Linked DNA regions of Homo sapiens: regions 1 and 3 are each linked to region 2. The links come from fine-mapping of genetic effects on gene expression. A gene starts in region 2. Each other region holds a variant in brackets. All regions are shown on one strand. Distances are between the middles of the regions.

What was found.
Region 1: its variant is fine-mapped to the expression of LAPTM4A in pancreas (GTEx, PIP above 0.99). The same link has a PIP of 0.9 or more in adrenal gland.
Region 3: its variant is fine-mapped to the expression of LAPTM4A in whole blood (INTERVAL, PIP 0.98).

Annotation. Positions count from the first base shown.
Region 1 is chr2:20,070,503-20,078,682 of GRCh38, forward strand. The region is part of intron 2 of LAPTM4A-DT (LAPTM4A divergent transcript); the gene reads left to right. Among named protein-coding and RNA genes, the nearest start is that of LAPTM4A-DT, 22 kb to the left of the region's middle. The variant G/T (reference allele first, on the strand shown) is at 3,664.
Region 2 is chr2:20,047,422-20,055,601 of GRCh38, forward strand. It overlaps LAPTM4A (lysosomal protein transmembrane 4 alpha), which reads right to left and starts at 4,207. Exons shown (of 7, transcript NM_014713.5): 1 at 3,989-4,207. The coding sequence starts at 4,099. LAPTM4A-DT (LAPTM4A divergent transcript) reads left to right here and starts at 4,716. Exons shown (of 5, transcript NR_187142.1): 1 at 4,716-5,073. RefSeq lists enhancers at 3,343-3,482, 4,018-4,217.
Region 3 is chr2:19,747,578-19,755,757 of GRCh38, forward strand. No RefSeq gene overlaps it. Among named protein-coding and RNA genes, the nearest start is that of LINC00954, 120 kb to the right of the region's middle. The variant C/T (reference allele first, on the strand shown) is at 3,670.

The DNA.
Region 1 (8,180 bases), 23 kb after region 2:
ACCTAGATCCCTCGCATGCACAGTTCACAACAGGGTTCGTGTTCCTATGAGAACCTAATTCTCCTGCTGATATGACAGGAGGCGGAGCTCAGACAGTCATGCTTGCTCGCCTGCCACTCACCTTCTGCTGCATGGCCCGGTTCCTGACAGGCCATGGACCAGTACTGGTCTGAGACCCAGGGGTTGAGGACCCCTGCTGTACACTATACTAAATTTATAAAAAACAATTATGTTATAATGTTATGACAGCTACGATGTCATGAGGATAGGAATTTTTCAGCTCCATTATAATCTCATGGGATCACTGGTGTATATGTGGTATATCATTGACTAAAACATCACTATGCATTTGTGTATATAAACGACTATATATGGAATTATCATGGTTGTAAGAAAATGGTATAGGAGCTGGGCGCAGTGGCTCATGCCTGTAATACCAGCACTTTGGTAGGCTAAGGTGGGCAGATCACGAGGTCAGGAGTTCGAGGCCAGCCTGGCCAACATGGTGAAACCCCATCTCTACTAAAAAACAAAACAAAACAAACAAACAAACAAAAACCAAAAATTAGTCGGGTGTGGTGGCAGGTGCCTATAACCCCAGCTACTTGGGAGGCTGAGGCAGGAGAATCACTTGAAACCGGAAGGCGAAGGTTGCAGTGAGCTGAGATCACACCCCTGTACTCCAGCCTGGGCGAAAGAGCAAAACTCTGTCTCACAGGAAAAAAAAAAAGAAAGAAAGAAAAGAAAATGGTATGGGAAACTGAGAGGCTAGGGAATAGGGAAGAATGGCAGCTTATTTTTTCTTTCACTCTCTACTTTTTGTGTTTTTAAAATTTTATGGCATATGCAGAAGAAACCTTGGCTTTACATCCCAGCTCCATCGGCTAGAGATGTATCCCAGCCTTCCCGCTTCAGGGCTGCAGGCACAGGAGTGGCCGTTTTAGAGCGAAAGCCATAGCAAGTGGGGGTGGACAGGGATGGAGGCCAGAGATGTGCTCCTGAGTGGCCTGGACAGGATCCAGGAGTACGGTTCACCCGTTTGTAGTGGTGTGGACGGCCTGTGCCAGGGACCAGGAAAGATAGGGCTGGAGCTCCAAGGGGCACGGAGGGGCTGTGAGAGCCAGAAGGGGGCTGAGTCAGCCAAGCAGCACCACTGGCTCCACCACACAGAGCTTTTTCTTTGCAGTGAAGTCTGGGCCGCTCACTTTTTAGCCCCAGGCTGGGGAAGATGACATAGGTTCCCAGACGGTGAGCCTCACCCAGTGAAATTTCTTTCTGGCTGCAGGGTACATGCAGACCTGACCTTTTGGGTTTGCAGATCTGTGTGGAAAGATAACCTTCTCACAGGAGGCTTGCAAAGGAAATCCCTGCAAATGAGGACAGGTAATAATACCTTTGCTTTCCCAGTTCTTTAAGACTCTGACTCCACAATAACAGGGCTTTGCTTCCAAAAAAAAAAGGCCAACATGTGTTGCAATTTCAGCCAACATATGTTGCAAACTCAGGCTCAGCATCTGGTAGTAGTTAAGGGCAGGCTGACATTCACTGTGTAATTCAAATTCCTCCAGCCCTTTGTCCTCTTTCCCAGGCTCCTAGCAGCCTCCTCCCCTTCTCCCACTTCCCCTGACTTTCCCCCAAACTCTAGACGGACTTGTTCCTCTGCTTCCCAGTCTCACCAGGACCACCCCACCCACTCCTTTGGAGGTTGTTTTCAAAGCAGTGAGCAGAAAGAATCCAAGGCCACATGCCACTCACTCACTCAACCCGGGGCACGTTGTAAGGGACTGGGTTTCTGTTTGTTTTGTTGGCGTTTCTTGTTTTGGGAGTCGGAGGGAGTAGAAAGGGAAGGGAAATTATTTAGTGGATTTTTTTTTCCTTCTTTTCCTTTTCTTTCTTTCCAGAAAACTAGCATTTCATAGTTCAGGACCCAGTGAACAATCAACTGCTGACTCTCACCAATATCAAAGGGAAAAAGTTAGTAAAGGAGTTCGTCCCACTGCTCTAGCTGTCTAAAAATGTAACAGGCTTCCCCTTCCCCAACATAACCTGTAACTAAAATCTTGTTTATTTTCTGAACTTTTCAAAGAGGTTTAAGTACATTTTTGTGTATTTTTGAGAAAAGCACAGCTTATCCTATCACTGTCTTGCATCATATTTTTAAGTACCACATTACAAAAGACAAATATCACCAAGGCCCCTTAGAGCGTCCAAGATATAAAACTGCCGATGGACTGGCCACAGTGCCTCATCCCTGTAATTCCAATGCTTTGGGAGACCAAGGTGAAAGGATTGCTTGAGGCCAGGAGTTTGAGACCAGCCTGGGCAACATAGCGAGACGCTGTCTCTACAAAAAATAATTTTTTTTAATTGGCTAGGCATGGTGGCTCATACATGTAGTCTCAGCTACTTGGGAGGCTGAGGCAGGAGGATTGCTTGAGCCCAGGAGTTTGAGGCTGCAATGAACTATGATCATGCCACTGCACTCCAGCCTGGGAAACAAAGTGAGTCCTTGTTTCTGAAAAAAATAAACTGCCAATGGTGGCTTGTATGCTTGTATACCTGCCACCCTCACGTAAAAGAGGAGCAGTCCGCAAGATGGTCCCCCTCAATGCCATACCCCCTTCCAGAGCTTTCCCTCTTAAGGCAGAAATGGTGTCTGCTGTACATTCTGGTCTGGTATGTGGGCATATGCCCCTAGTTTCCAATTCAGACTGAAATTATTTACACCACATGCTCAAGCTGAAAGGATTACCCAAGGCGTGATCCTTGAGTGCCTCTGTCCCCACATCTCCCACCTCCCTCAGCATGCACTACTTCCAAAATATGCTTTACAACTGTCCCCTCTCTCCATCTCCACTGCCACCTCTCTAATCCTAGCTACCATCCTCTGTCACTTGGAATATGCAATACCTCCCTACCTTATCCCTCTGCTTTTCCTTGTGTAGAAAAAGTCATTGAAAAGTTCTGTCTGTACCTTTTTCTTCTTTGGTTCACTCTCCCATCCCTCCCATCATTTTTCAAGCAGGTAGACAGACTTGATAATCCCATGTTTCTAGAATTCTAGAAAGGCTATAAGGCAGCCTAACAACATCTCAGCTTTTGCAGAAGCCTGAATCAGAGATGACTTTTGGCGAGGTGTCCTGGGGGGTGTGGGGAGAGAGTGTGTGTGTCTGGACACAGCAGCAAGGACAGAGATGAGATTTTTTCTAGATTGAGAATAGAGGGAGTTCCTTAATCCCCGAGAGCAGGGAGGAGCCCAGTCAAGGTTCCAAGGAAGAGGCCTTAGGAGGTGCCCAGATCAGAGAGCTTGGCAGGCTGAGGTGCTAAGGTGAGGCAGGAAATTAAAGAAAAATAAAATTAAGAAGAAAGAGAAATAAGTTTTCCTGTATTGGGCTGACTTGTCCCAGAGGCAGCAACAGGCACAGCCCAGACCCAGGAAAAGTCTTGATAATATTATCTAATGTGCTCTGGAGACTCTCCCAGCCCTCCCTCAACATAGGGAAAAGAAAGACAAAATTTCCTTTGTTTTATGGAATGAGTTTATAGATTGCTGTTCTCTGTAACTAGTGACTTCAAGTATTCTGTTTTATCTAAGAAGTACAACGAAGGTCATTAGAAGCCTGAGTAGACCTGAACTACAGCTGCCTGGGCACCATAGTGAAG[G/T]TTATAAGATAAGCCCGTGCCCAGGCAAACCTAGATAACGGACATCTGGGTTGCTTGGCAACGGTCATGTGCAATCCTGTATTTGTCCTGCCTCTGTGTCCCTGCTTTCACACCACCGTAAGCTTGCTTCAAGCTAGCCCACCCCCTTTTGTGAAGTGTGTATAAAAGTCAGGTGCTGTCTTTGTTCTGGGCCCAGTCTTTTGGATGTGAGTCAGCTGGGCCTGAGTGCACTCAATAAAGATTCTCCTGTTTCAACGTGAGGTCTCTCTCGTCCTCCTGAGTCCCACAACAAAGGAAGCGGACTTTACCTGCAGAGAGTCACTAAAGGGGGCATGCTAGTCTTGGACAGTCAGAGCACCTGTTATAATCATGCCAACTAGAGGCCCTCACCATGTTTCATGAGTGTCAAATAAGGATTCCCTTGTGATCCTGAAAGGAAAAGTGGTCTCAAATATGACGTTTCAGGAAGGGAGGGGCTTAAGGCAAAATTAGGCTGAGCTACTGGAAATAAAGTGGTGTTTCCTGAAGACCTAAATGTGGACCAGGATTTATACTCACTATTCACTTAAGGTGACCAGTGGTCCCAGTTTGCTTAGAACTAAGAGATTTCTCAGGACATAGGACTTTCAATGCTAAAATTGAGAATGTTCTAGGCAATCTGGGATGAATTGTTTACCCTATTTAAAGTTCTTTCTACAAAATGATAAACTTACAAATGAAGTCAGGTCATAACTGTCTCTTACCATGGCCTTGGGGCTCCGTGGTGATCCGGATCCTGCCTCGTACTTCATCCAGCTCTGCCCGGTTCCTTCCTATCCAGCCACCCTGCCTCCATCCTGCCTTCAGCCGACCTAGTTTATTCCTGTCTCTTAACCTATCACCTGTGATTCCTTCTGCCTGCACCACCTTCACCCTTTTCTCCTGCTCTTTCCCAAGGTCACCTCCCTTCCCTCCTGCAGAGGTCAGCTCAGAGAAACGATCCCACACCTTCCTCTCTGAAATCGCTTCCTCCACCTCAGCCCCAGTCTCTCTCTGGCTGCCATAACCCTCTGTAATTTACTCGTGGTACTGATCTCATGTGTGAATTAGCTTGATTGTGCACTTGTCTCTTTTCCCCTTAGCATGGAAGCTCCAGGAGGGAACCCTGTCCTAGACTCTGGCTCAGGGGTTTACACAAAGTCGGTGTTCAACAGTTGTTGCCTGGCTGATTGCAAAAAAGGCTTTGTTTTTTTCTCTGTTCTTTTTCTTATTTTACTAAAAAAAAAAAAAGCAGTAAGTAAGCAGGTTAAATTTTTTCAAGATTAACCCTTATTTTGGTGGAGAAAAAAAAATCATTTGGCCTGGTTAGTGCTGGGGTTTAGTAGAGTAACCTTTGTTTTCTTCTTCTTGATGAACATTGTGGCCCATTTCCCTTTCAAAATTTTCTTTCTAGTCTCTATAACAAAGAACTAGTCACAGGTAAGACACGAGAGAAAAAAAGGAAAGAAAAACCAAGTGGTGGGGCAGACAGCACAATGTAAGATGGCTAAAAACAAGTCCAAATATATCAAAAACCACAATAAATTTAATTTTTCTTAGTTTTCCTTTTCAAGGATCAAGGCTACCAGTTTGGTTAAAAAATTCAGCCATATGCTGTTTCCATGGGACACACCAAGATCATAAGAACATGGAAAATTTGAAAATCAAAAAATGGGAAAACAGATCAGGCAAATGGCAACCACAAGAAAGTTGACATCAGAAAAAAATATTTTTAATTTATTATTTAAAAAGAAATTTTTTTGAGACAGGGTCTCACTTTTGTCACTCAGGCTGGAGTGCAGTGGTGTGATCTCGGCTCACTCCAACCTCCATCTCCTGGGCTCAAGCGATCCTCCTGCTTCAACCCCGCAAGTAACTGGGACTACAGGCACACGCCATCATGCCTGGCTAATTTTTGTATTTTTTGTAGAGACAGGGTCTTGCCATGTCACTCAGGCTGGTCTCGCACTCCTGAGCTCAAGCAATCCTCCTGCCTTGGCCTTCCAAAGTGCTAAGATTACTAGCACGAGCCTCCACACCCAGTCTAAAATAGATTTTTAAGACAAAAACATTACCAGGGATAAAGAGGATAACATAATGGCAAAAGGTTCAATTCACTGGGAAGATGTAACAACTGCAAAGCCGTATAGCATCTGTTTAAATAGCCTCAAAATGAGAGACCTCCAGAGACTGACAGCAGCAAACATATTTCCACAAGGGCACCTCCCAACACTCCTGGGTTCCGTTAGCACAGAATGAGTGCTAGTTCTTTGGCAACCCAAGATTAAGCCCTGTGGCCGCAGTGAAAAGAATCCCAGGAGAAAACTCAGAAATAAAATGGAAGAAGTAAGACTTCAGGTTGAAATCACTAGAAACCCCCAGGAAGTAAAGGAGGAAAATGAAACCGAGGAACCAGAAAAACTATCCAACAAGTTCATTAATACTTGGAGTGACCAGGAGATCCACAGTTTCCTAAAAGAATCTCTTAAATTTGAAGAAATCTCTTGAAGAGTCGAGGAAGAATCATGAACAGTCTAAAGTGATTGTCCAGCATCTCAAGCAGACGGGTACACAGTGGAGCTGGCACGTGACAAGTTTGCAGGACTTTTACTGGACTACTCATGAGGCCAACCTGAGGCCAAGGAGCCAGTGCCAGCCCTGTCCTGATGGAGAGGCCCTACACGGGATTCTGGGATACAGATGGAAGGATGTCTTTTCAGTTCCTCCCTCTGCAGATGCAATTGTTCTTCCAACTGCCTAGTACCAGCCCGGGGCCTGTGCCATCCCTGTTCACTTTGAGGTGCTGCTGTGGGCTCCCTCACCCACGAACTGCATGTGGGATCGTTGGGTGCCCAGATAAGAACCCTGAAACATGAGCCCCCCACGGTCAGCCCCATGCTTGTTTCCTGACTTCTTCCCTGCAGCCTGCAGCCTGCAGCCTCTAGCAGCATTGGCCACCCTCTTCTGATTCTGATCCAGATTCTGAACTGAGAGACAATTAGAATCTGGATCCCAATTCCCTCTGAAAGCAACAGAATAACATGATCTATACACGGATGCATGACACTTTGCCAAGCCCAATGTAATGAGAATAAAGTGTGAATAAAATAAATGGCTTCAAAATACAAAAAGCAAAGATGAAAAAATTACAGGGAGAAATCCATAATAGTGAGAGATTTGGCATGCCTCCATCATATATTAATACATCAAGCACAAAAGAAAATAGATTTGAGAAAATTAATGGATGTGATTTAACATACATACATAGTATTGGGAGATCATTCTTCACTAGTCTTTCATACTTCTGCACATCTTGTGAGTGCAGCTTTTGTTCTGGATTATCTGTTCAAGTATGTACAATGAATAGCCTTGGACTATAGAGACAGTGCCTCCCTCTGGAGTGAACAGCAAGTTTGTTCACCGCCCAGTCTAATAAAGACACTGCCTCCCTCTAGGTCAAAGTTTGAGGAGGTTTGTTTGCAGCTCATTACAAAAAACTGGAACTTCCTAGTCTTGAGGTTTCTCAGCTGTGAAACGCACACACTGCATCCACCTGGGCCTCTTCGTATTAGCCTCATGGGACTTACAGGGCGAGGAGAATCCACACAAGCATGAAGCTCATGCTGCTTGCTATGCTAGGGGTGAGTAATAAATCCTTTGTCTCTGATCCAGGAGTCTCATGTCTTCTGTCAGTATATATGAAACTGTGGCAAGCTAAGTTACTAGATTGCAAGTGTGATCAAATATCAGACCCTTCACAGTTCTTGACACATTGAAGGTTGCACCCAGCAGTAGACAATATACCATCTTCTTATGCACTGCATGGAGCAGACACTAATTACCCAGCACAATGCCTGCCACGTGAGAGACACCGAGTAAATGTCAGTTCTCATTTCTCTCCAGCACTCCTGTTCTTCTTATTTCCTTGAGCACTCAGCAGCCTCAGGGAAGGAATGAAGCAGGTAAACAGAAATCCGAGGCTAGTGTTAAAACAGTCTGGGCAATGGTTCTGTCCATCCTAGCATAAAATAGGAGCACAGGGAGCTAGAGTGATGTAGAACAACTTCCCCCCATGCTGTGTTGGCCCTATGCTGTGTGACTTCGTTATTTGATTTGGAGCAAGACCATTCCTAGGAAAGCAAATTCTGTATGCTTATATTCAAATGTCAAGACATTTTCCAAAGGTTCTATAAAAATTAAATCTAGATAATTAACCATCTTCTCATAGCTCAGAGCAGTGAGTGAGACACGGTCTCTGTCTTTGAAGAGCTCCCTGTCATATCAAGGCTTGGCAGTGAGGTGAGGAGATTGAGCTTGGTAGGTAAACTACTAACACAATGTACCATATCTCCAAACACCAAGGGAGCATGATCCATGATTAATTCTACTGAGGGAAGAAGGTGGCACAGAGGAGGTGATGTGTCTGAGGCCTGACCTGGTCTAGAATAATTTTGTCAGGAGGAAAGTGAGCTAACTCAGCTTCCAGGTTGCAGTGGCCC
Region 2 (8,180 bases):
GGCTCACGCCTGTAATCCCAGCACTTTGGGAGGCCGAGGCGGGTGGATCATGAGGTCAGGAGATCGAGACCATCCTGGCTAACAAGGTGAAACCCCGTCTCTACTAAAAATACAAAAAATTAGCCGGGCGCGGTGGCGGGCGCCTGTAGTCCCAGCTACTCGGGAGGCTGAGGCAGGAGAATGGCGTGAACCCGGGAAGCGGAGCTTGCAGTGAGCCGAGATTGCGCCACTGCGGTCCGCAGTCCGGCCTGGGCGACAGAGCGAGACTCCGTCTCAAAAAAAAAAAAAAAGGAAAGTTTTACCACGAAAACATGTGAGCTAACCATTAAATTATCTGGACTTGGCAAAATGTTGTTAATGGTTGAAGCTGGGTGATGAATAAATGGGAGGTTTTCGTACTACTTCACTACTTTTGTATGTATGAAAATTTCCTTAATAAAATTTTTAGAAAGTGACTTGGGAGGACAGCAACATTTCAGGGAGAAGGAATAGCATATGCAAAGGCAGAGGCACAAAACTTCCTTAGTTTAAGGAAGGAAACTAACAAATATAAACAAGCTATGCTTACTTGAAGTCAGAGGTGAGGGCTAGAAAGGAATAGAGCTTAAGGAAACCTGTTTTTACTTCTCTCCCAGATACAGAACTTCAAACTGTTTATGGTTGAGACACTCATGAAAAATTAGCCATATATTAAGTCTAAGAGATAAAATTATTACAAATGCTCAAAATGTAGTCTTGTAGTGCACACCATTAATCACAAAGTATATCTACTACAGCACACTTTTAAGTCCATTTTCAATTATTCAATAAACATTTGAGTTTATACCTCATAAGAAACTTGTTTAAAATCAACTGGCTTCAAATTCTTCAATAAATGATAGAGAAAACCATTTCAGGAATGCCAGAATTTAAACATGAGCTCATTCTGAAATTTCCTGTTACTTAACCAGGTATGCTTCTTTTCTAGCTAAAATACGAAAGGCTCACACTTCAGGGCTGGTACCTCCGGTGCATATAATAACTGGTTCTGGCTTTCTCTATGTCCCACAGCACTATTTTGTACCATACAATGAATATTTTAGTATATGGTGTTACGATACTTTAACACTAGACCAGTAGAAGCCGTGGCTAGAAAGCAATGAGACTGTATCAGATACAGTCACTGATAGCGAGGGAGAGGGGCTCCCCCAAGTTCCAAATGACACAGGGGGAATCATCATCTCAGAAGTCTGTCCCACGTAATGTAAAAAGAAACATAAATATTCTCCCATGCAGACTGAATTATTGCCTCACCAGGAATCAAGCAAGAGAGTACCTTGACAAGGTAGGTAGGGAGGGAAGTGACATTTAATACTCACTCATCCCCATATTGTTTCTCTGTCTTAGTAAAGCAGCTTCTGAGAATAAAATGCACTACTTGGACAAGCCTTCTTTGCTTCGAAGTATTATACTACAGTTTGGCTTAGGTGGTCTTGCATCATAAGTGTTACATGTCTCCCCAAGTTGGTAGAGACTGTCTTTACACTGCTATGGTATTCAAGCTACTCTTTTGAAAGTCATCAACAAAACTATAATAAACAAAACCAATGGCCTTTTTCCAGTACTTATTCTGATTAGAATCTGATATTACTGATCACCTTCTCCTCCTCCTCATCACTGTACCATATGTTTTTCATATCTGTGCTCCAAGTTTGTGATACCATAAATATCTTAAGGGCAGATGCTGTGTTAGACAAGAAACATTTGAGAGTCTAGCACTTAGCAGGTAATAGGAAAACAAGGCAAATGACACATGGCCCCTGTGATTTATTCCTTTTGTTTGTCCACCAAAGCCTTTTACACTGCAGGTGGTCAGTAAATCTCTTAATCAATTTAAGACAGGTCAAACGATTTAAGAAGTTTACAATAAAATGTTTTACACTAATCTGAGAAGTCTATGCAAAGTAAGAACAGCTATGGCATCTTTTTAAAATTGTGAAACTAAAGCATGGTCTTCAGAGGTATGTGAACCCTTCTCACAACAAGGGCTTAAAGTAGGGAACAGATGTAAACTCCTCACTCCCTATTTTGTAAGAATAAGCGCCCGTAATGAAGTTTTTCTCTCTGCATTTTGAGTTTCCTGTTTGTAGTTCCCACTTTATCCTGCTATTCTATTCATTTTCTAGCTGAGCCCACAGCATCAAAAAATCTGCCTGAGAAAAACTGAAAAGAAATACAGCCAATTACATTCGGATGGTTGAAATAGAAATGGTGGTATTCTCTTCTTGAGGAGTTAGGAATCCTTTGTTCTGTGAGTGGAGGGAAGGATCTGAGAAGAAACAGGAAGACTAAGACTGCAGGAGAGAGCCAGGTCGATGGATTCTCTTAGTTAAATAGGAAAGAAAGTCATCTTCTGGGGGTGAGGAAGACGGAATTGAGTAATAGCCTTGAGGATCCTCAAGGTTTGAATTATTCATTTAGGGAAATAGAAGACAGAGCTAAGGACAAACAAAAGAAATGAGACCCAGCCCCTCAGCAAAATGGAGAAGCTATAAAAGGAAGTTAGAAACATAATGCAGCTGATGGTCATTAACTCTATGTTTAGTATTCCAAATCAGTTAAAATACAGAACGAAAGAGTCTCTGAGGGAAAATGTGATATAGTTCTGTCAATAAGGCGGTATTTCCGAATATAAAAGTACAGGAAACATGAAAATAAACTCAGCACAAGCAAACCTACACATTCGTGTTGTTTTTTAAATGTACATCAGAAACAAGACGGTAAAAAACAACAGGGCAGGTAGCAGTCATGTGGAGTCAGGTAGTCCCCCGGGGGTGGGCCATGAAACAGTATCTGCCTCATTTAAGATGATTCTCATCTGGCGTTTGTCCAAATGCTTACTAATGATTTCAAGTCAATGAGTGGGGAGAAGCAGCAAGTACAGAGAAAACAGATTGTGTCTGGGATAACTCTCTTCCTCTTTTGCAGTTAAGTATCAAAAACTGCACAGTATCACCAACGTCACCCACACAACCACATTCGCGAAGTCATTAAAGTGGCCAAGTCGACCATGTAGGAAGTTTGTCACGGCTTCGGCAAAATCATAATAACCTAAAACTACCTAAACTGAATCCCATATTTGGAAGTCATAGACAAGTTAGGTTTAATGTGCATGGATACTATAAATGGTGAATTACAAAAGAAAAAATCACAAACTTATTACTAGTGAATCACCAGGCAACAACAGTGTCAACTTGGTTAGGACAGAATCACACAGATCTTGGAACCCAGGAGATACCGGGGTAGGTGGCCAGGATGGAGAGGGCTCTCAATAAAGGTCTCTGTAAAAACAGCCGGTCGGCTACGAAAAGCACCTACTGCGCAGGGAGGAGGCTGCACCAGGACAAAAGCTGGTCAGGCGTCAACTCAGGCAAAAGCTATCGCCCCCAAGCGATTCTGGAGATGCAAGAGAGGCATGAAACAAAACAAAGTCCAAGAAACGCGGACAACCGGGTTACCGCTGGATCTTTCGCTTTCCCAACGGGAAGACCAATGTCGAAACTAGACTGCGTTTACCAAGGTCCGCTCCTAATTATTTCATTAGAGGAAAAAATTCCAGGGAGCACTGGATAGGAGGAAGGGAGATGCTGCCTTTCAGATCGTAGAAATACAACAAGAACCAAAACAGAGGAATTCCCACCAAATCCTACCACCCTCGTCCCTTCGCCTGCAAAGCCTCTGCTCTCCCAAGCCCGCTTCTCTCCTCAAATTCTTGCCAAAGAACAATCTCCCCATGCTTACCACCGCCCCCCGCTCCCCCGACTCCGATTCCTGAACAAGGTTACTTTCCCAAAGTCCTTGGACTTCATCCAGAGTTGGCGCGCCTTAAAAAGCAGCGCCCCTCCAAGTCCCCGCCCCACCCAACACCCCGTTTCCAGTCTCACCCCCTCCGCACCAGGCCCCGCTCCCCAGGCCCCCCGGACATACGCGCCACGCCTGCCCGCCTTACCATGTACCAGGTCCCCAGGATGATCGTCCCGGTGCGGACATGGCAACAGCCGCAGCACCGGGTGCTGTAGAACCGGTCACTGCGGTTCCGCTTGAAACTCATGGACACCATCGTAACAGGCGGGCCTCCTTCTTGGCCGGGCCCCTGACAAACGTTCTCCACCCGCAGCCAAACTCAAACGGCTGTTTCACGGCCTCCAAAACCCAACGACGCGTCTTCAAACCCGCCCCCGGCTCGTGCCCCTGCCAGCTTCTTCGCGCCTGCGCACTGAGCGCAGCGACTTCGGCTTACCCACCCCTCTTCCTCCACACAGGCCAATGGGGAGCGGAAGGCTGGATGGACCGGACTTCTGATTGGAAGAACTTGGGGATTGACAAGACCTCACGCCCAATTAGAAGTGCAACTCGCCTCAGCGAGTCTCCGCCTGTTACGCGAAGGCAAGGGCTGGTTCTCGGGCCTAGGATAGTTGGGGATAGGTATGTCCCCGTAGTGCACTATTCCCGAGATGAGACCCGCAAGAAAAGAGGCATTTAATGGAAAAAGGGAGACACGAGACAGCGCGGATGGCAGAAAGCGGGCACAAGGGGCTTTTCTGAGCAATGTGTGCCACGTACTGGATGGGAAGCGTCACAGGCTGATAACGTGACCTTTGCGCGCAGCTCAATTATTGCGCGGGCTGGGGGCGGGGCCTGCGGGGAAGGGACAGAGCCAAGCCCAGCCTTGAGCCATCCTCGCCCCTGTGGCGGAAATGGGAGGGTGCCTGGAGGAGTGGAGGGATTGGATTTACACCCTCTTTTCCCTCCGAAGCCTCCTTGGTGGGGGCGAAGAAAGACCATCCAACCCTGCCAAAGGCAAAAGGATTAAGGATAAATGAAAGCAAGATAATGTAGAAGAACTACTTAGCTGCTGGGTTTTTGGAGATGAGTGATTTTTTTTTGTAGGGAGAAATTATGAAACACATTGAAATGGACAAAAAATTACTGAATGTCTTCAATGAAAAAACAGCCATAGTTTGGCACACCGTCCCGGGCATTCTGTTGCTAGAGGGGCTGTCCGCTTTTCTTTGTGGTGCTCTGCACAACTCGGTAAGACCCCTCGTATTGTTATCTTACCCTTCCTTGGGAAAAGCCATTTTGCATCGATTTGTAAATTCATTCCCCAGTCCTGATTCAACAATATAGATGGGTGCTTTAAATTCTGCTTAGAGCTGGTTCTAACAGCTTACTGGTCCCCGGGTTAATGAGTAAATAAATTTTTTACACGTGTTCATTTTGTATTTCTGTGAGACCTGTGACTTCACCGTTAAAAAATGTATTTATCATTTAATGCTTTGGTAAACACACTTCTTTTCAGAGAATAGAAAGGGCTTCCCTTCTGCCAGGGCATATTCTTAGCCAGAGACCACACTGAATTCAGAGTAAAGGTTATTTCTTTGGCATGGCTTCTTTGAACACTGCCTGAAATTATGTATGTATTTGTTGATTATCTCCCCAATAAAATACAAATTTTAGGAGAGCAGAGACTATTCACCACTGAAGGAGTTGTCCATGGAGCTTATTTTCAAACCATCTGGGAAGCAGTAGTTAAGCCCGCCCACGCTAAAGGATGGGGTGTGGCTGGCTAACTCAGAATGAATTATGACATTTCTCTACTTATGTAGGGAGTAGATTATCTTAACCCCGCCCCACAATTTCGTATCCCTTATTTTGTTCTAGGCACAGATCCAATCACTTTATTTTCAATCATTTCATTCCTACAACTAACTGAGATAGGTACTCTTACGTTATTTAACTCTACAGAGAAGTTAAATTACATATCCAAGATTGCAAGGCCAGTGTCACAACTGAGATTAAAACCTGTTGTGCCAATAGTTTCCAAACTTTGCTGCACATTGGCATCACCTGAGGATCTTTACTAACCACTGATGCCTGCTTACTATTCCAGACCTTCTGATTTAACTGTCATGGGTGAGACCTGGGCATTGACATTTTTAAAATGTCAATTTTAAAATTAGGTGATCCTAATGTGCAGCACTGTTATTCTGTCTTGATATGAAATGTGGCAGACAGAAATAAATACAATACAATAAAAAAGAATACAAAGATAAGATCAGGGGAGCCGGGCGCGGTGGCTCACGCCTGTAATCCTAGCACTTTGGGAGGCTGAAGCAGGCGGATCACCTGAGGTCAGGAGTTCAAGACCAGACTGACCAACACGGAGAAACTCCGTCTCTACTAAAAATACAAAAAATTAGCTGGGCGTGGTGGCACATGCCTGTAATCCCAGCTACTTGGGAGGCTGAGGCAGGAGAATCACTTGAACCTGGGAGGTGGAGGTTGCGGTGAGCCGAGATCTCGCCATTGCACTCCAGCCTGGGCAACAAGAGCAAAACTCTGTCTCAAAAAAAAAAGAAAAAAAAAAAATCGGGAAATTATCCGATTTCTCTAAAAGCCAAAATGAATTCAAAATCAGGTGTACCTAACATGGCATCAGATCAGCTCGTAAGGGCTGTTCTCCCTGTACTGGGACTACCCCAGGCAAGGAACCAGGGAGGTGTAAATCATTAGAGACCTGCAACATAAACGCATCTGATAGCAATAATGTAAGCATACCCTGAGAATGACCCTGTATGGTAGATGCACCTGAATGTGTGCTCTGAGCTAGGGAATCTGGGAGTGGCCAACCTGGAGATTTGTTCTGTGTCTATGATAAACATCTTAAACCCCCACCCCCACCCACCGGCCCATCCATTGGAACATGGGCCATACAGGGGATTAGGGCCCTGAGTTTTGGGTTAAATGCAGGTTGCCAAGTGGAGGTCGTTAGTGGGAGGGTGTTCAGTGAAAATGCTGTATAAACTGCATGATGTTTACAGGCAGTTGCGGTTTTCCTGCCCTTGGGACGTGCAATTATGTTGTCCAGCCCGCTGCCAGAGGACAGCAGGAAGGGAGATGTGTTGTCCACCCCACTGCCACTGGACCACTTCTATACATAGCTGGTTCTTCTGTCCAGCCCGCTGCCACTGGACTCTTTCCCCTCTGTCACCACTGGACTGTAAGCTCCTAATACAAACCCATGTCTCATTTACTGGCTCTCCAGTCTCTTCTTGGCCTCTTGAACCTGGTACCTTCTCTATTGAGGTTAGTAGGAGTTTGGCACAACAATAGCATACATAACGGGATTAGAGGGGTGAAATACGGTTATGGAGTTTTGTCTAGATAATTTTTATCTAATATATACACCTTTTTTGAGAAAATTGTAAGGTACTATTGGCAAAACAACCCATCTTTTGGGGATGGGGAAAGGAAAGTTAACATTTTTAGGAGAAAATAGCTTAGGAAAACTCACAACGAAAGAAATTAGAGTGAGGTTGAAGCTCTTTAGCTAACATAGTTTAATCTATTTTTCTCTTTTAAATGTGTTAGTCTATTCACATTACTTTAACTTATTTTTATTGAGGATCTATTCTATTCCATGTGATGATACGAGAATGAACAACACAATATATACCTACTGTGTAGCCACAAAAATCTAAAATAAAAAAGGTATTAAAAGAAAGAACGAACAAGGCAGATATTGCACCTTTCCTGGAGTGTATATAGTCTACAGGGGAAAAAGTCAATGAGCATTTTCAGTCTTCATCCCATCTCCTAAAGCATTTACTTGTTGACTCTTCCTTAGAGCTAGAAATTCTTTCTTGGCTTCTGATTAACCATCCACTATTTTTTTCTGTGTACTTCTCAGGCAGCTCCTTCTTATTGTTCTTCGTAGTTCCCTCCTCTACTGTCCATCCCCCTAAATATTGGTGTTGTTGAGGGCTGTGTGTCAGGCTCTTTTCTCCTTTTATCTTTTCCCAGCTGTCACTTATTTACAAGATGATTTCCCCATGTATTCGTCCATTTTCACACTGCTATAAAGAACTACCTGAGACTGGGTAATTTATAAAGAAAAGAGGTTTAATTGATTCACAGTTCATCTTGATAGAAATAATTTAGCTTCCTGGCCAGGTATGTGGCTCACACCTGTAATCCCAGCATTTTGGGAGGCCAAGGTGGGCGGATCGCTTGAGTTCAGGAGTTCAAGACAAGCCTAGGCAGCATGGCAAAACCCCATCTATACAAAAAATACAAAAATTAGCTGGGCATGGTGGCTCATGTCTTTAGTCCCAGCTGCTCGGGAGGCTTGAGGCACA
Region 3 (8,180 bases), 300 kb before region 2:
AAAAGAAGAATTTTTCTGGGCTTCCACTCTAGCAAAATGTTATTCGTGGCACCAACAAGCACCCACCAGGCTGTCTGGCCACAGATGAAGAAGCAGCACAAAGCTGCATGGGCACTGGCCTGGCCTCAGCCTGGGCTCCCGAGGCCAGCAGTCACTGCCACTGGCCAACGCCCTGAGGGATGGGGCATTGCAGAGGAAAGCAGGGGCATCCAACCACTGGGAGCCAGAGGGTTCTAGGAAGGCCAACCATGGCCCACCTTTGCCTTCAGAATCGCAGCCTACATTTGTATCAGCAATGAGCTCCGGGCTCTCTGGTATCACCCCCAGGGGTTTAACAGGCCAGGTCAGGCCTGCAAAGATCTACGACTGCCTGGAGCTGACCACCTTAACAACCTGCTCTCCAAAGGCCAGCCCACCCAGAGGCCCAGGCTTCTCACTGCCCTGCCCCCCTTCTTCCAGGCTTCACGGCATTGCCCTGCTGTGACACCAACATCTCCAGCTCACTTTAGAGAAGAGAGGGAATCGAAAACATATGAGCCATGTGGAAGGGGCAAGGAGCCCACTGTTTTTGCAATGTGCCAAATCCACACGACAGAGGGCGCAAGCCAGAGGGCTCCAAAGAGGACTTCCTGTAGGCTGCGACCAAAATGGGTGTGGCTGCTCAGCCCTGAGCCAGGTGACCTGCCTCTCCCAGGCAGGCCTGAGAGGTCTCTTTCCAGGTGCCGGGCCTGTCCACCTCGGTCCCCAGCAGCTCAGGGCTAGGTACTCCCATAGCACACTTCTCCCTCCTGTCTTCTTGCCCTCTCCCATGTCAGAGCCAGGGAAGAGAGGTCCAGGTGAGAGAGAGGGAGACACAGAGCTTCTCACCATCAAGAATGAGCATGAAGAAAGACTTGCCCAAAACGTGGAACAACTTGGTGGCCACTGCCTGCCCTGACTCCCGGTCTACCACTGTTTTCCAGGCAGCCTCTGCCCAGTCTATGACCTTTTCCTCTGCCATTTTTGGCTGACATCTTTTCTGCTTCTCTACATTGCTGTCCTTTGTCTCCATCATTTACCAAGCCTAGGAAGTGCAAGAGAATCTTTCATGCTGCAAACACATTGCAGATGTTACAAATCGAGGTCCCAGCCTTAACTGTAGGCCCTAAACAAAGCTCTGATTCTTCTCCAGCATCTTCTCAACATGCATCTCACTTCTCTGAGGAGCTTGCAAACAGCTACAAATGTGGCTGGCAACCTTATGCCAGTGGTGGCGGCTTTAGGAAAGGAGGTAGCGTCACAGCGGACAGCAGGGTACATTCACAATCCAAGAAGACGGAAATCAAAATCAGTATCATTATCGTCATTGGCGGCGGCAGCATCTCTAATGGATATGAAATGCTGGCAATGTCAAGCCCCGTACTAAGTACTTTACACAGATTACTTCATCGAACTTTTACAACAAACCTTGCCAGGGGCATGCAGTTGTTTTCCCGCTGAAAAAATATAGAGGTCAAGGTTATGCCATCTCCCCTGGGCCTCTCAGCCTTGCCTGCTCTCCAGTCCAACTCCTGCCTCTACCTGATCTGCATTTTTGGAACTGTGGGAAGCACGTCAGTGGGTTTGTGAAATCAGTGTAATGGGACACAACAAGCTTTACACAACATTCTTCTTTTAAATGGAAGAATGGAATATAATGTTCAGAGTGCATCGCTCATAGTAAAGGTAGGTATTGTTTCGTGAAACTTTTGTTTCAGTTATATGAATGTGTGTATATTCATTACACACAGGATGCAATAGAGCATGATTTTAAATATATACCTTACTATGAGTCACAGTTAACAATCTCCAAACACTGTTATGTTGAACTCTCCGTCCACTGTCTCAGTCTTCCTGCGGGAATTTCTATCCTGTTTTCGTTTCCCCACCTTCCATGCTACAGGGTCCCCTCACAACCCACAGGGTTCCCTGTGCCGTGGTTTGCTGAGGAGCAGCCCTTGGGCCCCATGGACATTGGCAAGCCTGTCAGGGGGGCAGGCCAGCAGGCCAGGCTCATGGGGCAGAGTCCTGCCTCCTGCCTCCTGCTTCCTGCTTTAGCAAGGTGCTTCTGTCGGCCCTGCAGGACGGATGTTTCCCAAAAGAGGTTTAATGGCTCCTTCCTCCCTGAGCTGTCAGGTTAGTGCCTTTGTCTACAGAATTAGCACAGGTACACCTGCAGGTTGGTGTCCTCATTAAACTATTTTCTGCATCTTGATTCCATAAGGATGACTCCAGGGGACATTTCAAAGAAGCAATTCATTTGCAGTGGCCTCTCCCAATTGGAAAGGGTGGTCCCAGTTTCATTGGCAGAAGCAGAGGGAGGCCTGGGTCTGTCTGAATTTTCTGTACCAGCCTCCTGCAGCTGGGCCAGCCCACACAGACGTGGAGAAGTCAGGATAGTGGGCCTTCTCACCTTCTCCTCGCCATGCAGCTTCTCTCCTGTCCTTTGCCCTCTGACACTCTCCTGGCCACAGATAGGCCCAAAGCAGAAGTGTAAACTTCTCTTCTGGGCTGCTTCTGCCTTGTCAAAAATGCTGTCTGTGAGAGACTGCAGTCTCTAATGGTGGCATTCTAGGTGGAGATGTTATTGGATGGAAGGTCCCTGAAACCACACCATGCCAACACCCACCTACTCCACTTCTGGGTACCCCCATCCCTGTCCTCTGTGCAGCTCTGGGCCCACCTTTCCTAGAGCAGCCTCCCAGGGCTACCAGTCCAAGGAAGGAAGGATTCCAGACACCCACCAAGCACTGGCTAGGGACCAGGCGGAGGAGTCAGAGAGACACAGTTGGTCAGCCGTTTACTTACTGTTCTCCTGGTGAGACAGGATCCCAAGGGGGACATTGATCAATGGCGAGTTGTGAATGCTAAGTGACAATGTAGAAGGTCTGAGTCAGGACCACCGGGATGCAGAGGAGAAGGAGGTCTGTGGGCCAGCAGGCTGTGGTAGTAGAGGAGTCCCAGAAACAGGGCTGGAACAAGATCTTAGAAAATAGATAAAGAGCTCACACAGAAGACAAGGGCAAAGACAGGTATCCCAGGCACGGAGGATGGCAGAAGTAAAGAGGAGGGAGATTAAAAAATACAGGGCACATTGAGGGAAAGTGAGTCTACTAACAAGCCAGAGCAGAGCCTGTTCACAGGGAGAAAGACATTTAGAGCAGAGCTTTCAACCAGTTGCAGATGGATACAAGTGCTCCAAGACTCAGATCCTCTAACCCTTGGTCTGAGGCACCTGTGGCAGCTGAGCCCTGGGTCAGTACTCAAGTGACATGGAGAGGGTCAGCAAGCCATGAATTAGAGCACAACATTGAGATCATGTACCATTCCTGAAAGCTGATCCTAAAATCAGTCTCTTTTACCCCCCTCTCTCCTTTCTACCCCTCTCTCCCCTCCTTCCCTCTCATATCCAACAATATTTCCTGGGTACCCACCCCACTGGGTATTGTGCTGAATGGTGGGAATTCCACAATGAAGCAGACAATATCCCTACACTCAAGGGTCACGGGGTCTAGTAAAGAAGACAAGCCAGCAAAAACTTCATTCAATAGCATGCACCTGGAGCTAGGACTAAGGTCTGCATAGGGCATGCTAGGAGCTCAGAGGAAACATCTAACCTGGGACCCAAGGAAGATTTCCAAGAAAAGCTGA[C/T]ACCTGAGCTGAATATTCAAGGGCGGAGGGGAGTCAGCCACAGAAGGAAGCGGGGAAAAGGACATTCCAGGCCAAGGGAACAGCATGAGCAAAGGCGAGGTGGCTAGGGACCATACATACCCTAGCCATGGCAGGATCTACAAACACTCAGAGCCGCTAGAGTGATGCTAAGGCTGGGGCTACCCTGTGAAATAGGAGAAATACAGTGCTGGAAGGACAGATCAGGGAGCAAAGGGGGCTATAGGAAGCCTTTCCCAGTGCCAGGTCTATTCCTCAGAAGGAGATAGACACACCGGCGCCCAAGGGAAGGTGGGCATCCCTTGATGGGGGGAGTGGCATTTTCTTTCCCCAAGTCTGAGGCTGCTGCTCTTGCTGCTGACACCCCCAGAAACTCCAGAGGGTGCAGCCCTCACTGAAGGGCCCACTCCAAATTGTGCTGAATATCCTCCAAAAGAAAACTTATTCTTAGTAAAGGCTTTCCCGTGACCTTTCTCAGAGAGGAAAACACACACACTCTTCACTATTGCTATTCCCCGCCAGCTTTCCAAAGAACTACTCCCACACTGGCCTCAGGAGGGGGAGAAACCCCAGGGACCAAGGGTTAGGAGCAGTACTTCAGAAAGATTTCCAGGGAACAGAGAAGAGGATCTGATTAAAGTCCATCAACTATGAGGTTTTCTTCCAGGCAATTAAATTAAGCAAGAACATTCCAGTTCGTTCAGGTTGTTCCACTGACAGACACCTTTTTTTATAGGGAAAAAATAATCTTGGTAGTATGGTAAAAGATGATTAATTAAGACCACCACAAGGCATTTATTTGATTTGGGGTTTAGAAAAGCCCATCAATTTCACACAGCAAAAACCAATTTATCTGTACCTTTAATATCTAAGTTATCACTAAATCCATTATGTGGGAGAGGATCCTATTTTTTTGATAATGGCATAAAATATGGACAAAACATGAATAATTATGAAAAATAAAACAAGAACAGCACACACAAAAACAAAACTGTTAATAACAACTCATCAGGGGAAGCAGATGGCTCAAAGGCTTGTGATGGCAAGCCCTGGGCTTCACCTTCTGGCTCCAGCAGGTGCCACAGCCAAGCAGACCTGATGATGTTCACAGGGATCAGAGAGATCATCCCATACCCAGGCTCCAGAAGTCCAACTCATACGACATCTTATCCTGTGCACCTTCTCCTTTCCTACACCCATGTCCTGCTTTCCAGAGGGGCAGTAAATACTTTGAGAGCAGGGACCACATCTCATTCATGGCTCTGAAGATAATGAGTCAATATGTAGTTTCCAGCCATCTAGTCCTGAGCTGGAAACACAGAAATAAACATTCCACAGATGTGCTGATGAGCCCTGATTCTTCTGTCTGGCCTTCAGCCCGATGCCTAGGCTCCTTCCCTGTGCCAGCGTCCTGGTCCCTGTTAAGCCCAGTCACCTTTTCAGATAAGATGTTCTTGGAAGGGGATCAAGCAGCAGTTCCTGCACGTAGAAGGGGTTGGTATCAGCTGGGAATCTGTAAGCCTCCTCTGTCTCACTTCCTCCATGAATCCTATGATCTGAGACCTCAGTTTTGTCCAGGATATTTCTGAAAGCTTAAATAGCTGCCACAAATTAGACCTACTACTTCCTACCTTTCATCATTTTTCTTCTTTCATTCCTTGCATGCCCATTTTTAAGCTTACTGTGGGATTAGTATAATGGAAACATGCCTCCTTCCTAGGTCTACCTCAGTAAGGAAGTAGACAAGAAATTGGAACCCCTGTTTCAAGTGGAGTCCCCTCGCTTATAAATCTAAGTAAAGTTGGTCTACATCCTTGATCCACAATTTGCAGAACATGCAATAGCCTCTGCTCCTACATGCAAAGTTCCTGTGTGTTCCAAGGAGAGCTCCCATCCTGATTTAGTGTATTCACCTGTGACATCTTTCCCTTCTAGATTCTTCCCCTTTCTGCAATGTGTTATGGCTATTTACTTCCGCATGGAAGAAACCCAGACATGAACCCACCTCACTTTCTGAATTTATACCACACACCCACACAAGTCCTTAGAGTATAGGATAAATTTTACTAGAGGTCTGGGTAGCTGACAGATGTTTATGCCTTAAAAATGCCTACAACTTTAATTAAACGTGAGTTATTCTGGTCTTGAAAATTCTTTGGCTAGCCTACCATTGGGCTCAACCATCCTCTCCATGTCCAATTCCCCTGATCTGTTCTCACTAACACCTATATTCCCATCTGGTCCTTATATGTAACAGCTTAGTCATCTCTTTTGTTTCCTCATCTCCTAGGAAACCAGGCCCCCAGAGTCTCACCTTCTAAACCAAGTGACTTATCAAGATGTTTTCCTAAATAAATTCAATTCTTTCTTCAAGAGAAATTCTGAACCCTCTATAAAGAAAAGAAAAATCTTCCACTGCACAAATAGGCCTTTTCTATGTACTATGATCGGTATGATCAGTACTTGCTGTGGGAATTTATTGAACACTATGGGAGCGTAGAGAAATCCAGGCCTGGACTGAGGGAGTCAGAAAAGATAGCCCAGAAGAAGCAATTCCTAACCTAGCACCTGAAAAAAAGGGTAGAGTTAGCCAATAGAAAAGAGAAAGAGAATCCAGAGGAAAGCACACACAAAGGCTAGAAGCAAGAGAGAGCCTGGTAGCACCCAGAATTACAAGAGGTTCACAGTGGCTGAGAGGGGCACAGCAACCTGAGTGAGGGCATGATGACAGATACAACTGGCGAGGGGGTGGGGCCAGGCCACACCTCATAGATCAGGTTTGAACTTGTTCCAGAAGGCAATGGGGAACCTTCCAAAGGTTTAAGCAGGAAAGTGACATGGCCAGATTTGCACTTTAGAAAGATGACTCTGTGTGAAGGATGGAAAGTCAGTTATTAAGAGGCAAGACTAGAAGTAGAGACTGGTAGGAGGCTACCGCTGTGGCCCAGCATGAACAGAGGCCTGGACAAGGGAGGTTCCAGAGGGGAAGAAGAAATGGGCACAGCTTGAAGAGAGATTACAGAGGAAGGAATTGCCATTCCATGGTGCTGGAGTGGAAATGGGGAAAGAGTCTTGGGCAACTCCAAGATCTCTGACTTGACCAACGAGGTGGCAGACGGTGTTTTACTAAGATGAAGAATGCAAGAGAAGTGGGTGGGTTTGGGAAAGATCTGCCACCTCTCTCCCTGCCCATAGTGCAAAGACAAATGTTTTCTCCACCCAGGAACTGCCCACTCTGGTGTGTCCTGCTCATTGCAGCCACCCCCTCAAAAATCACCTGACCAATGGGGACCCAAAGAGGCCACAGCTACATGATGTTCTCAAACACCATGGGAAACCAATAGAGGAATCTAACAGACATTGAGTGGGCCCACCCTGTACCCACACTGCTCAGGCTACCTTCTTCTGCCCCCATTCTGTGCCCTTCCCCAGATGGGAGTTCCAGGTCAGACCACAGCTGCCCAGGCTGGCCTCAGTCTGGATCTGCTGAGTTCTAAATCTGACACCACAGCTTCCTCCCAGTCTGGGAGAAGGCATCTTGGTTTTGTTCTCTTGCACATACATAGCCATTCTTCAAGTCCAGGAAAGCCAAACACAAAGGTAATATCACTTAGCCAGGCTGCAATTAGCAGATTAGCGGCTTGTTGCTCTTGTCTTATGTCCCACTCGATGACCTCACAAAAGCCCAGAGAGCCTCAACACTGAGCTGCTCCAGGAAAGGGCCCATCGACTTCCCTGGCAAAAAAATCCCCCAGTCTGTCACCGTGAGTTTCCCCATTGTAGAGCTAAACTACAATTGATGTTCTGTCTCTATCAATTTCTCAGGAATGCTGGGACACAAGCCCAGTATTAATGAAGACAGCAGAAAGGCAGGCATGCGCTTGGCCCCGTTCCAGAGCTGACGGAGAGCGTGGATCCTGAATCATTCCGGGGACCCAGAGAAACCTGAATGAGGCAAAACAACCAGACTCTGGGGTCACACACAGGCTTGGTGGGGCAGACAGATGCGAGAAGGCTTACGGGAGAATTTCTGCTGGGAAGAAATAGCCTCGAGATTATCCTTTTTTATGATCAGGTATTATTTTCACCATCCAAGAAAGGCAATTTTAGTTCAGCCTAAAAGGGCGTATCCATAGGTGTGTTCATCTGGTAGTACACAATCACACACCCAATCTCACATACAGAGCTTACACGTCACATTAGGGGACCGTGGTAAAGCTAGAACTAGCACTCAAGTAAGGAACTGAGGCTGTATCTGCATGTGTCTGACCAAATCCCTGAGCACCTCTCAGAATTGCCTCTCAAATCAGAAGCCCTCCCAGGTCACATGCAGAGGAAGCCTTGATTGATGTGGGAGGCCTCACTGGTATTAAATTAAAAGCCAGTAAAATGCTTGTCTTCATCTCAGTTTGAAAAATGAATAGAAACTGGCCACTGGCTCCTGTTTCTCAGACAGTGTCATCTGGGGGCTTCTCATTTTGGAAACTTTTTTA